Regions from separate parts of the Homo sapiens genome. Here region 1 is linked to region 2. Evidence: fine-mapped QTL for protein levels in blood plasma. A gene starts in region 2. The other region holds a variant in brackets. All regions are shown on one strand. Distances are from middle to middle.

Region 1 (2,892 bases), 23 kb after region 2:
GCCAGAGCTGCGCCTCTCCCACCTTCGAGGGGAAAGGATCCCATAAACAGTAAAAGGCAGGAGCAGGGAGCGGGAGCCGGGTGAAACCCTGGGGCCTTTCTTATTGCAGGTCGGGGCCTAGGGGACCCATGGGCTGCTGGGTCTCCAATGAACAGATTTCCAACAAACAGCGAGTCCCCCAGGCAGCCTCGTGCAGCCCTGGCTTCATCCCCACACCCGGCAGCCCTGGCAGCTCCCTTTCCCTCTTTGAGCCCCAGCTGTTGGGCTCTTTCGCTGACATCCAGCCCCCAGTGGCAGCTGGGGTAGCCTCAACCATGCTGGAAATGGAAGCTGCAAGGCCAGGGACCCTAGAGGAGTCCGGTACTGCTGTGGGTCACTGCCTCCTCCTGGAGCCAGCCTGATGGCTTTTGGGCACCTCTGGGCCTCCTGACTGTGGCCCAGGAGGGAGACAGGGAGGCTGCCCCATGCAGAGGCAAATGCAGAGGTTCAGGCCCAGCCACAGGTCCGGGACCGGCCCTGCGGGTGGGCTGGTGGTGGCTCCCGCCAGCGTTTCTCACCTGAGCAGAAACCCTGGGTGTGGTGGAGGGAGGTGCTGCCCAGGCTGTGGGGTGGCTGCTCCTGGCAGGGAGTTGTGGACCAGGTGATCCAGACGCAATCCCAGCCCGCCAAGTGCGTCAGCCGCTACCACTGAGCGCCCGGGTGCAGAGGCGGTGCAGGGCGGGGATGCCGGGGTCCCCGCTCACCTCCATGCCTGGCCTGGCAGGCGGCATGAGACTGCCTCGCCCCGCCCAGTCCCACTCCCACGGTGACGCCCGCCAGGCAGTCCTGTGGGGGAGGCCCGGGCTGTGCCAGGCGATGCACCGCGTCAGCCCCTGGGGACCTCAGGCACAATGGGCACCTACTCCCTTCCCCTAGAGCAAAGGCTGAGCTCACGGCTGGCAGCTGCCCAGCTCACACCCCTCCCCACCCACTGGGGCCCTGCTCTGCAGCGTCTGTGCCCCAGGGGTCATGTCGTGCGCCTGCACCTGAGTCTGCCGTGTTTGCTGGTGCCTGCGTGTGCACAGGTGCCTCTCGGGCCTCCTGGTCTGTGTGCCCGGGAGCACGGACACAGATCCACCATGTGTGCCTCTGCGGGGACATCAGGCAGACGAGTACCCAATGCGGGGGCCAGGAATGGTGACGGCTGCGGCCATTCCGTGGGTGCCGCAGCTCAGAGGTGGGCAGGCAAGAGCACCCAAGTATGCACTGTCGGGCTCCACCAGGCAGGCCAGGGCAGGAGAAGACACAGGAGGGACTTCCCAGCCCACCTGCCAGGCTTCTCCCCTCACTGGGACAGGGTGCTGGGTGACCCAGGCTGAGCCCTGGCCTGGCCCACCTACCCCAGCTCTCATCTTGGGAGAGACTCAGCCCCTGCTTGGCAGGACCTGCAGCTCAGGTTCAGCTGTGGAACCACCACCCCCTGCACCACAGCTATGCTATGGGTGCCCAACAAGCCAGCTCCATGGCCAAGCTGAGACTTGACCCCCGATCTGGGTCTTCTGGAGGCTGA[C/A]GGCAGGGGAACTGGTAGGTGACTGCTCCCCAGGCCTGCACAAGCCCACAGGAACCCAGGTGCCCCTTTGAGAGCTCTAGGCTGACAACGAGGCACGGGCACCATGAGGGACGGCGCTCAGGCCTGGCTTGTTGATGAGGGTCCGGCTCAGGTCAGGCCTTGAAGGCCCCTTGGCCGGCTGTCAGCTGGGCCAGCCCAGCTGGACACAGCGGCTCCAACAGCTGCTGTTGGGGCAGTGAGGTCGGCAGCCCCCAGTCTAGAGGGGTGGGGCCCCGTGGGGCAGGGTGGGGAGACTGTCCCAGCCAGAGAGGGGAGGCGTGCCTGGCCCTGACTTGGGCTGATTCAGACAAGGACCAGGAGGAGGCCTGGAGATAAGCCAGCCCTGGGGGAGGGGAGGCCGGGGCCAGGTGCCCGAGGGTGGACACGTCCCGGGGCTGGCCAGGGAGGAGCCTCGAGAGTGATGGGCGTGCTGGCCGGGAGGGCTTTGCTGCCGCACTCTGTTGGGGTGGCCGACTGGTGCTACTTGAGGGTTATGCGGTCCCTTCGGATCTGCACCAGCCCCTTCCTTTACAGATGAGGAAACTGAGTCATGGGAGCAGCAGCAGTGAGTCCAGGGCCTGTGGCCTCACCTCAGGGACTCTGGGGCTGGAACCCACGTCTCGGCTGAGGGCACGGTGGCAGCTGCCTCCAGTCGGGCCCCGGTGGGGACTCCGGGTCTGGAACCCGCGTCTCGGCTGAGGACACGGTGGCAGCTGCCTCCGGTCTGGGCCCCGGTGGGGACTCCGGGTCTGGAACCCGCATCTCGGCTGAGGGCACGGTGGCAGCTGCCTCTGGTCCAGGCCCTGCTGCTGTCACCGCTGGGGTCGTAACCAGGGTTTCAGGGCTGGCCCCGGAGCTGGACAGTGGCAGGCAGGGGCCAGGCGGACCTGAGACCAAGTGCTGGCCCATGAGATGCCCCTTCCACAGAGCTCTGAGACTTGGGCTCTACGAAGATCCCTGGCTGGACCAGCTGGGTATTCCCATGGCTCTGGTTGTGGGGGCTGGGGGTTGTCCGGGGCCGGCCCAGGGTCTGTGCCCAGGCCAAAGCTGCACGGTGCTTGCTGTCTGCAGGAGAGGCCGATAGGAGCCTGGACCACTGCGTCTGTCCTGGGTCCTGCTGGGGCCTCAGGGCAGGGAAGAGAGCTAGGAAAGGTCTGGGTGGCCAGACCTGTCCCTTGGAAGCCCCACTTCGGACACGTTCACGGTCATCCTTGGAGCCAGTCACTGAACATTTATTTGGAGTCCCTGGAGCCCTGCTGTAGCCAGGAGCCCAGGTTGTGGCATGGGGGACAGAGGAGGTGGGA
Region 2 (2,892 bases):
AACGGACCCTCCCGCATCGGCCTCCCACGGTGCTGGCTGAAGGGTGAGCCCAGGCTGGCCACAGCGCGTTTTCATCATTGTCCGCAGCTTGCAGTCGGCTGGTTCAGAGCTTAGCCGGGCACATGGGCCCCTCTGAGGCTCCTGTTCAGGGCTCAGCCGTGTCTACGGGGCCCTCCGAGCTCTTCCTGGACCCTCCTCGGCTCCTTCAGTTCAGGGCTCAGCTGGGCACGTGGGCGCCTCCTTGGCTCCTCCGGCTCAGGCCTCTCCTCGAGCTCTGGGCCCTGAGTATTCTGGGCTCCTTCCTTGGTTTCCTTTGGCCTTTGGCCGGGAAAGTTGTGGGTGTCCGTGGCAGCCTGGGCCACTTCACAGCCCCGCAGCCAACCTGCGGCTCCTTCAGAGCAAAGCTGTGTGGACACAAAGGGAACGCCACTCGGAGCTGGCCTCTCCCTTTACCTGTGAGTTCCCGCCCAAGCCGGCTGCCTTCTGTCCCCTCCCCAGAGCCCTTGGGTAACTGGTTTGCTACAAGAGTGTCTGGAATTTTTCAGTTGTTCTCTGCGGAAGGGAGTTTTTAAAAGGCCCTTAATCCCTTCTTGACATTTGTAAGTTGACGCTTACACCTGGCAGCCTTGCTGAATTCTGTGTGCGTGAAGGTCCGATTCCACCGCGAGTCACGATAGAAAACCCACTCTGTGGAGAGACCAGAGATGACCGCCGCGCACACCTCCGTTCAGCACACAAACCTTTGCAGGTGTTCATAGCGGAGGCAGATTCCGTACTGGGGATAAGAGCTCACGACATGCTGGGAGGGGTTTCAGGGGCAGGGAGGGGGCTTCTGTGGCCCCAGGTCAGGAGGAGCAGCTCTTCCATCAGCAGCAGGCAGCCAGCCCAGATGCGTAGGGAAGACAGCTCCCACTTCGCCAGGCCAGAGAGCGCCCGGGGGCAGCTCTGTTCCAGTCGACCCTGCGAGAAAGGGGTGTGCGTGTGCCTGGAGCTGGGCCCCGTCCTGCCTCCCTGACCTGTGTGCTCCCACAGCCCTGAGACGGACGGCTCACAGCCTTGCGAGGCCCACACTGCACTGGGGGTCAGGCTTGTGCTCCCGGGAGTCCTGTCTGGGCTGCGTGGCCACCATCCAGAGCCTGCTGACCTGCGACTGGGGGGGCCAGTGCTCCCTGGGTTTCAGCACCTGAGAATCAGAGTGGGATCCCGTGAAACCTGGGCCCAGGCTCCCACCCACGCCCCACACCCACCCAGGGAAGCCATGAAACCTGGGCCCGGGCTCCTACACATGCCCCACACCCACCCAGGGCAGCCGTGAAACCTGGGCCCGGGCTCCCACCCTCGCCCACCGAGGGCAGCTTTGCCTTCCTGGGCATCCCTCCTCCCCCAGGCCTGGCCCGCTGCCTGTCCAAGGCTCCTGTGCGGGGTCTCCACCCACACATTCCTGGGGCGTGAGGCGCCACCACTCCCTGCTGCCCCGGGCAAAGCCGTCATTTGTTCCCTTTGACGGCCCGGGAGGCTGCCAGGCTCTCCACCCCCACTTCCCAATTGAGGAAACCGAGGCAGAGGAGGCTCAGGTGTGGCCAATCACCCTGCACATCAGAGTTACCCTGGGCAGGGCCCACTGAGACCTGGGAGGGGCCACTCGGGACCTGGAGGGCTGGGGGCTGCCCGGGCGTTAGGGGTAAAGCTCCCTACCCAACTGCGCAGAAGGCCTCAGAGGCCTGGGGGCTGGGCTTCCCCTTTCACATCGCCCTTTAGAGGCCCACGTGTGGGCATTGGCCCGCGATCTGAAAGGGGCTGTCCTGTTCCTCATGGGCGCTGCCAGCGCCACGCACTCCTCTTTCTGCCTGGCCGGCCACTCCCGTCTGCTGTGACGCGCGGACAGAGAGCTACCGGTGGACCCACGGTGCCTCCCTCCCTGGGATCTGTAAGTAACAACCTTTGAGCTCTTCCTGTTGTGGTGTGGATGGAATCTGCACCTTCCATCTGGAGAACTGGGGCCGCCCCAGGCCGGGCTTCCAGCACCAGAGCGATGGTCAGGCTTCAGCTGGACGCAGATTTCACCCCGCAGGGCACACGCAGACCCATTTGTTTGGAAGCGGCAGTCCTAAGGCAGTGCAGGTGCCTCCACGGCCCCAGCCCAGCTCTCCTGCAGGTGTAAAGGATGCAGATTCCAGGGCCCCCCATGGCCTGCAGAGGCCCCTCAGAGCAGGAAGGGCCGGGCTCTCGGGGAGCCCCCATCCCAGGTGCTGAGGTCCTTGGGTCACATGGAGCTGGGGTGGGGAGTGCCCAGGTCCCCTGTGATCCGATGGCCACGTTTCCCTCCTGGCTTCACGCACCCCAAGGGCTGGGGGTCCCACTCACTGCCCATTTTCTGGCTGTGGGGGGGGTCTGTTTTCTTCCACCTTCTCAAGGTGTTCAGAGCCTCAGGGGCCTCCCCACTTCCTCTGGGGCCTGGGGGAGTAGAGTCTGTCACCCGGAGGCTGTGTGCCTCCCCGCGACATTCCCCAGTGGCCGGGCCGACCAGGCAGGCTCTGCCTGTGGATGGGGCTGCTGAGCATGAGCGTGTGACCCCCATTTCTGAGCTGTGGGTGGACCCACCGGGCCTGGGCCAAGGTTTTCAGGAGGCAGCTCTATTCTACTCCGCCATGGTGGCCTCCCTGAAAGGGGTGAGTGTAGAAGCCAGTTCCCTCTTCTGCGAGCCCCACCCCTACCCCAGGAGGACAATTCTTGTTCAGGGAGGGTCTCCCCACCCACTTCCCCACCCCACAGTGGCCCACAGGCCCCACCCTAGAGAGTACAAGGGGCTCCCCAGGCTGCTCACTGGCCCAGCCCCGCCCCACCTGGACTGCACCTGAAAATGGGCTCAGAGAGGCCAAGTGGCCCAAAAAG

Which allele goes with the higher level. Alleles are on the strand shown, and positions count from the first base shown. The strength of an association depends on the size of the effect and on how common the allele is.
For the plasma level of the protein whose gene starts at base 1,487 in region 2, allele A in region 1 goes with a higher level than allele C (weak association).

Evidence for each region. PIP is the posterior inclusion probability: the model's chance that the variant is causal. The UK Biobank Pharma Proteomics Project read protein levels with antibody pairs (Olink). The fine-mapping took linkage between variants from a reference panel, not from the people measured, so its PIPs are less certain.
Region 1: its variant is fine-mapped to the plasma level of the MSLN protein (UK Biobank, PIP 0.96).

What each region holds. Positions count from the first base shown.
Region 1 is chr16:782,178-785,069 of GRCh38, forward strand. RPUSD1 (RNA pseudouridine synthase domain containing 1) reads right to left here. Exons shown (of 6, transcript NM_058192.3): 6 at 2,797-2,892. Among named protein-coding and RNA genes, the nearest start is that of RPUSD1, 4.8 kb to the right of the region's middle. The variant C/A (reference allele first, on the strand shown) is at 1,550.
Region 2 is chr16:759,248-762,139 of GRCh38, forward strand. MSLN (mesothelin) reads left to right here and starts at 1,487. Exons shown (of 18, transcript NM_005823.6): 1 at 1,487-1,574; 2 at 1,826-1,927. RefSeq lists promoters at 68-1,917, 1,423-1,903, 1,425-1,443 and enhancers at 734-1,259, 1,425-1,443.